2 linked regions of the Homo sapiens genome follow. The protein of the gene in region 2 purifies or fractionates together with the protein of the main gene of each other region. This does not show direct contact. Each region holds a gene or a part of one and is shown on either strand. Other genes may lie near its edges.

Region 1 (3,500 bases), 4.5 Mb from region 2:
AGAGTGGGGGTGTCCAATCTTTTGCCTTCCCTGGGCCATATTGAAAGAAGAACTAACACTAACGATAACTAATGAATGAAAAAAAATCACAAAAAATCTTATAATGTTTTAAGAAAGTTTAAGAATTTGTGTTGGACCGTATTCAAAGCCGTCCTGAGTCTCATGCAGCCCACAGGCTGTGGCTTGGACAAACTTTTGCTAGACGAAGTACTATTCAAGCACGAAATAATAAAGTGGAAAAACATAAAATTATTACCTGGAGTAAAATGTAGGTGTCATGGAAAAGATATGTCACAACATCAGTGCACTAAAGGGCAAATCTCTGAAATAAAAACTACAAAATCTCCTCACTGTGTCACACCATGTCCTTCAGAATATGGCAGAAGTCTACTTAAAAAAAAGAAGCACAAATAAATGTGCTTCAGCGGAGAATATATATTCCTTTCTTGTATCCATAAAACATTTACAAGATGTAATCATCTATTTGAAGGAAATAAATTTTCCCAAATTCGATATTTTATGGCCACTTACTCCCCTCCTGGGTCATTAAAAAAGGTTTTTAGCATAGAAGATGCAAAGGGGGTGGTGTGAGTGTTCATTAAGCAGATGGGCAGAGAGGAGAGCACGTGGAGATAGATTCTCCTCCAGTCAGGGAGTCTGCATTTGGAAGGTGCCTCTCAGGCCCCTGAATAACTCATCCCCAGAGACAGGGTTTCCTCATGTTGAATGTGGGAATATTGATAGCACATACCTCACCTCATCTCACATGAGATGTGTGTGAGAACCGAGTGAAGTAACTGACATGGAAGCATTCTCGCAAGTGTAAGATGTGCAAATGCAAGTCATCAGGTTTAGAAAGAAGACTGATGGATCCCCCACCCCATACCCCACACTTCTCCACCCACCAGAGCCCTGAGAAGGACTCAAGTGGATTTTGCTCAGTTGTCTGTTATGTTTCCTCCTATAGGACAGTGGCAAGTCACTGGACCGGGCAAGTTTGTCCAGGCCTTGGTGGGGGAGGACGCCGTGTTCTCCTGCTCCCTCTTTCCTGAGACCAGTGCAGAGGCTATGGAAGTGCGGTTCTTCAGGAATCAGTTCCATGCTGTGGTCCACCTCTACAGAGATGGGGAAGACTGGGAATCTAAGCAGATGCCACAGTATCGAGGGAGAACTGAGTTTGTGAAGGACTCCATTGCAGGGGGGCGTGTCTCTCTAAGGCTAAAAAACATCACTCCCTCGGACATCGGCCTGTATGGGTGCTGGTTCAGTTCCCAGATTTACGATGAGGAGGCCACCTGGGAGCTGCGGGTGGCAGGTCAGTTGTTTATTTATGACTGAGTTGTCTTGTAAAGTCATGCTACCATTATCAGCTCTTAAAAGTATTTCAGATAATGAAATAAAACAGACTTTCCAGATTCTGACATGATGTAAAAAGGCTTCGGTGGGGATCACTGACCTGAGGTTTCTGGAGATGAGCCTGGCCCTGCCATCACACAGGTGGGATCATGATGCAGAAGACAGCCACCTGCACCTGCCACCACCTGACAGGATACAGAGGAAAGCCACTCCCAATGTTGGTGAAATGAGAGTGATAATGCCTGTCATATTTCAATTTCTTTTATTTTCTTCTTTTTTCTTGACTTCTTGTGTGTTACTAAACTTTTTTTAGGATTCCATCACAACTTATTGTTAGTCTTTTTTTAGTATAACATTTTGTAGTGTTTTCTTAGGTGCTGCTTTAGGTGTTATGATATTCATATATAATTTATCACAATCTACTATATCAACATTTTACCACTTTGAAGTGTGGAAACTTCATTTTCATTCAGAGCCCTTCAAACTCCACAATTTAAAAATAACATTGCCTTGAGTATTTCTTCTATATACATAAGCACTATATCAGATAGTGACTTAATTTCTGTTTAAACCATCATATATAATTTTCATTTTTATTTTTTATTTTTTATTTTTCTTTGAGACAGTCTTGTCCCGTCACCCAGGCTGGAGTGCAGTGGTGTGATCTCAGCTCACTGCAACCTCCACCTCCTGGATTCAAGTGACTCTTGTACCTCAGCCTCCTGAGTAGCTCAGATTACAGGCATGCGCCACCACACCCAGCTAATTTTTTTTTGTATTTTTAGTAGAGATGGGGTTCTGCCATGTTGGCCAGCTGGTCTCAAACTCCTGGCCTCAAATGATCCCCTGCCTTGGGCTCCCAAAATGCTGGGATTACAGGTGTGAGCCACCACACCCAGCACATATGTGATTGTTAAACACTAATAAAATGGAAAATCTATTGTAGTTTTCCTTATTCTTCTTTTTCTATTGCTTTTCTTCTTTCCTAATATTCCAAGATTCTTTCTTTTATCATTTCCTTTCTGTTTGAAGAATTTCCTCCAGCCATCCTTTTAGGATAGGTCTGCTAGTGACAAATTCTCTTAGTTTTTGTTTATCTGAGAATAAATATGCAAAAGATTTCCTCTTTATTTGTGAATAATGGTTTTGCCAGATATAGAATTTCTGAGTTTCTTGATGGTTATTTTCTTTCAGCAGTTGAAAAATGTGCTACTTCTTTCTGGCCTTGAAGATTTCTCACGAAAAATCTGCTGTCATTGGTGTTTTCTTTATTTTCAGAAATTTAATTATGATCTATCAAGGCATGGGTTTCTTTACATTTCTCCTATTTGGTGTGCTCTCAGCTTCTTGAATCTGTAGTTTCATGACTTTCACCTCATTTGATTAGATCAGCCATCATTTCTTTAAATACTCTTTCAGCTCTCTCTCTTTCTCCTCTCCTTCTGGGACTATGATGATATAAATGTTGATATTTTGTTATTGTCTCATAGGTCCTTGAGGATCTGTTTTTCCCTTTAAAAAAATATTTTCCTCTCTTTTCATGCTGGTTAAGTTTCATTGTTGTATCCTGGAGTTCAATAATTTTTTTTTTTTTTTTATGAGATGGAGTCTCGCTCTGTCGCCCAGGCTGGATAGAGTGCAGTGGTGCAATCTCGCTCACTGCAAGCTCTGCCTTCCGGGTTCACGCCATTCTCCTGCCTCAGCCTCCGGAGTAGCTGGAACTACAGGCACCTGCCACCACGCCCGGCTAATTTTTTTTGTATTTTTAGTAGAGACGGGGTTTCACCGTGTTAACCAGGATGGTCTTGATCTCCTGATCTCATGATCCACCCGCCTTGGCCTCCCAAAGTGCTGGGATTACAGGCCTGAGCCACCATGCCAGGCCAATAATTTTATTTTCTGTCATCTCCACTCTAGCATTGAAGCTACCCAGTTAGTTTTTGTTTTTGCATTTTTTTCTGTTATATTACTTCTGATTTGTTTTTTATAACATCTATGGTTTTTGTTTTTTAAATTTTTTGAGAGAATTCATAATTGCTTTTTGAAACATTTTAATAATAGCTATTCATGTTGGTCTTGGCAATCACATGATTGTCTATTTTCATTCAAGTTGATATTTAATTGGTTCTTGGTATGATGGGTAA
Region 2 (4,246 bases):
AGAAATATATGCAGATGTGGCATATGTCCAATTAAAGAAACCTGATACATACTGTTAGAACTGTTCAGCATCTTGGTTTCAATTTTTATATAAAATTTAGGATTACGAAATATACCAAAGCAGCATAGAAAATGAGCCCCCCATCCCCCTGCCCCATGGCCCACCACACAGGTTAACAGATGTTAACATTTTGCATTGGCGCCTTGTTTATGGCTGTCTTGGAGATAGCCCCGTGTCGCCTCCAGCTGCCTCTTTGTGGTAACTGCCCAAGAGTCGTTATTGATTATATGCATGCACCCAATATTCATTATTCGACCTGTTCCAGCTCTTGGATATTTAGCAAATTACTGATTTTCTGCTTATATAATTGTGGTGGAGGTAATACCCCATTTTGTATAAATTTTGCCCGGGTGGGTGGGCTTCGAGGCAAAGGAGAACGAGGCTCGGCTTTGGATTAGGTTCACACTCCTGCTCCGCCACACTTCTAGTTGTGTGATCTGGAGTAAGGGAAGGCCCTCACTTTCCCCATCTGTAAAATGAACTGGCTATAGTAATCCCTCCGTCTCATAGCTGCTGAGAGGAATAGAAAACTAAAGTATAGACGCTTCACTGGGCTTAGTTCCCAGTTTCCCTGGCTAGGGAGGTCTCCGCGGGGACACCAAACTCTCAAGCCCAGCCTAGCAGCTAGAGCGCCCAGCGCCTGCACTTTTGCTTTAAACTACAACCTGTTCCCCGCCTCTCTTCCTCCACCGCCACGCTGGGGGCGTGGCGGTTAAATGTCTCTGTGACGTCAGCGCGAGCAGGGCCAATCTCCTTGCCCGGCAGACGTTAGCTCGTTTGCATGGGTGGTCCGCCATTGGTCTGTTGGGCAATCTGGGCCGTACCAGCTTTTTAAAGACGCCGTGTAGTATAAACAAGGAGAAGTGGGGCGGCCGGGCCATGATGTCAGCGCGGTGCTGCAGCTCTTGGGGGTGACGTCATCTCCGGGAAGGTGGCCGGCCCAGGGTTGTTAGAGCCAGCATAACCACTTGGGCCGCTCTCGCCCCGTCAGAGGTCAGACCCATTGCACTTCAGTATCTCAGGCGGCACCCTGTCCCCGAGGAGGGGACCATGACACAGTAAGTCCGTACTGCCGGTTCTCCTGGCGGGACCCATTTCTTCGGCAGGGAAACTGAGCCTCAGAGGCGCGAGTAGTTAGCGAGTTTGCATAGCAAGTTCGAGTTGCAGCCGATCGGTTTTGCCCACCCTGGGGTCTCCCCATCTTTATGTCAGGATATGCGGCCCCGCCCCTTGCTTTTGACTATGGCTGCGGTCCCTTTAAGTGCGAAGGTGGGGGCGAGGAGGAGGTTAAAAAAATTCAAGATGGTGGCCCACTAGTCACGTGCGTGGTCGCGGCGAGTGATTGGCTCTCAGGGCGGAGCTCCCGGCGCGGGGCGGGGCCCCTGCGGGCTTGCAGCGGGCTACTGTTTGCCGGAGCCTCCCGGCGCGCCCCCGCGAGCCCCCTCCCGTCTGGCGCGCGACCCCGCCGCTTCGAATGTTGTGAATCAAATGTGGGGTTTGTTACATTCCGCTGCCGCCGCGGACAGTTCTTAAAGGGCCAGCCGCCGGCTGCCGCGCAGACCCAGCTGCGTCCTGCGCCGCCTCCCGCTCCCTGAGGGCCTGGGCCGAGAGAGACTGATCGCGCGTGGGCCTCGCGAGGCAGACGCCGTCGGGCGGACAACAAAGAGAGAGGCCCCGGAAGGAGCCGGGCTGCCCCCGGACCCGGGGGTGGGGAGGGGAGCACATTGTTCCGCAGGGCGGGAGCTCTTAAAGGATCCAGACAGGCACCCCCCCCCTCCCCCGCCCCCTGCCCAGTTTGGCCGTCCTAGATCGGGAACAAAGGAGTCAACGTGTGGCCGGGCGGCCAAAGGTGAGTCGGTGCCAGGGCCCCCAACTTCCTATTCCCCCACCCATGGACCTTCTGTTCCCCTCCCCTGGGAATGGGGGCCGTGATCTAGGTGGCTCCGTAGGGGTTAATCACGGGCGGTCCAGACTGCGGGCAGCGAGACCCCAGGGATCAGGAACCCCCCCCAAGGCCCCCCGTGGCCGGGCCGTATCTCCCCTCTCCTGCAGCTGAGCGCTGCGGTTGGAGAGGAAGGAGCCGCCCCCCTCCCCCTGCGGCCGCCACTTCCTTTGTTGTTGCTTTTGTCTCACGCCGAGCACATGGTCCGGGATCCTCGGCTCTTAAAGTCGCAGCGTTCTGGCCCCTGCGCTGCAGTCTCGCCTCCCGCCCCCGGTGTCCCTCCGAGAGCGGCGCAAAAGAGTAGGAAGCGGACGAGGGAGGCCCCTCTCGGGGCTGTGTCCGCGCCTCGGCCCCCCAGCACTATGCCTGGGGAGGGGTGGCTGGGTAAGCTTCCCAGAGCCCCACAGCGTGCACTTGGCCCGCGTTGGGGAGCCCCCCCTTCCCCAGGACCCTGGTTTCCTCCCCCACTAGTGTGACCACCTGGTTTCTTCTGGACTCTTCTGGTTTTATTTGGGCGCTGTGGGAAGGAAAGATTTCCACCCCCATTTTATAGCTGTGCCAACTGAGGCGCTCAGAAGCAAAGGGATTTCCTTGACCAAGGTCACTAGGGAGTCTTCTCTCCTAGTCTGGTGGTCCGGCCCTCAGCGGCCTCCAGGCACCACACGTTGGGAAGCTCTGCTTGCGCTGGGCAGAGCCTGCTTGTTTCGGGTGGGGTGTGGGGAAGTAGGAAGGGGGGCTTCTCTTCCTGGCTGAGTCTGCTCATGCCCCCAGGGTCTGACTTTGTTTTTATCTGCAAAAGGGAGTGTCTCTTCCTGCAAACAGATCCCTGGGGCTCTTAGACCAAGGTCAGGGTAGGTGCTTGGGGCACTGGACTTAAGGGGTTGGCCGGCTCTCATGGGTGGGTGTGGGGGGTTATGTTAACTGCAAAATGCATTGCGTGCCTGGGGCGGACGGGGCTCAGCGACGGGACTCTCAAGACCCGTTCACACAGAGCTCCGTGATAGGACAGCATGGAGATGTGGACGGGCAGAGCAGTTGTTAGGGGAGGCCACCTGGCCACCCTTGCTATTTGACCTTGAGCAAGTTGCTAGCTCCAACTCTGGGCCTTGCTTGCTTCTCTGTACTACAGAGCTAAAGATGGGTGCCTGAAAGAGAGTGCTCTCCCAGCCTCCTGTATGGCTTGGAGACTCGGGATTAGGTGATTTCCTCCAGCTACTGATGCCACAGGAGTTATGGCTTGGGGGAGTTTGGGCCTAGGAGGCCAACTAGGACCAATTCCGTTCTCTCTGGTCTTGTGGCCTAGAGTAACTTACTTCCTTTCTCTCGGCTCCAGTTTTCTCAGCCATGAAGTGGGTGTAACCCTTCTACGCCACCCCTGTTCCTGGCAGGGCTTAAAGAACCAGGATCCACTCTTACCAGCTGAGGTATTCCCCTAGAGTGGCATATCTGCCTGCTGCCCCGGAAGTGGCACCCTTCAAGCTCTGCTTGAGGTTGGAAATGGAGGTCAGCGTGTCGTATTCGCTAATAATGATCATTCACACCCAAGCTAAGTTCAAACTTTACAAGTTGCTTCTGCTGTTGCCTTGGAGCAGTCCTTGATGGGAAACTGGGAGGTAGTTATTGGGCTGTTCCCATTTTACAGATGAAGATACTGAGGCTCGGGAGGGGAAGCCCTTGCCCACGGTCTGTAGGCAAGAATCTCGCTAGAAGTCACTGTCATGTGTGAGTCTGTGAGGGCTGACATTCTTACCCACGGCTGGAGGCCCTTCTGTCTCCTGGCTTGCTTTCACAGCTCCTTACCACCTTCCCTGCCCTGGGGAGTGGGTGCCTTTGTAGGGGGCTGGCCACAGAGCAGACACCCACAGGCCTGGGCCTCTGCAGGAGTGCCTTGGGCCTGGCACTACTCAGCCATCTGCAAGACATCCTGACATAAGAGGAGCAGTCAAGGCTGCTGGCTTGGTGGCTAGTCATGGGTGCTTTATGGCCAGACTGCTTAGGTCATGCACCTGCGCACTCACGATTCCAGCTGACTGGCCTTGGACCTCACCTCTCTGAGCCTTGGTGTCCTGACCTGCCAGTGTTGCTGGGAGGACTCACCAAGTTGGCGCCGGGGAAACAGCATGGTTATTATGGTGACTGTTCTGCACCAGCAGAACTATGGGCTCCCCAGCTTTCTGAGGTTAGCTAGGGTAGAGATTCCCAAATCTAGCTGTGCTGTGACAACTTCTGGGGAATTTGTTAAAC

Evidence for each region. Proteins that work in one complex are often made in the same cells at the same time.
Region 1: the proteins of RNF44 (region 2) and BTNL3 purify together in Homo sapiens (affinity purification with mass spectrometry; one large-scale study listed by BioGRID and IntAct). This does not show direct contact.

Annotation. Positions count from the first base shown.
Region 1 is NC_000005.10:180,991,846-180,995,345, forward strand, and holds part of BTNL3 (butyrophilin-like protein 3 precursor), read left to right. Parts: intron 1-967; coding exon 968-1,315; intron 1,316-3,500.
Region 2 is NC_000005.10:176,534,603-176,538,848, reverse strand, and holds the start of RNF44 (RING finger protein 44), read left to right. Parts: upstream 1-1,446; 5' UTR 1,447-1,909; intron 1,910-2,200; exon of another isoform or gene 2,201-2,386; intron 2,387-4,246.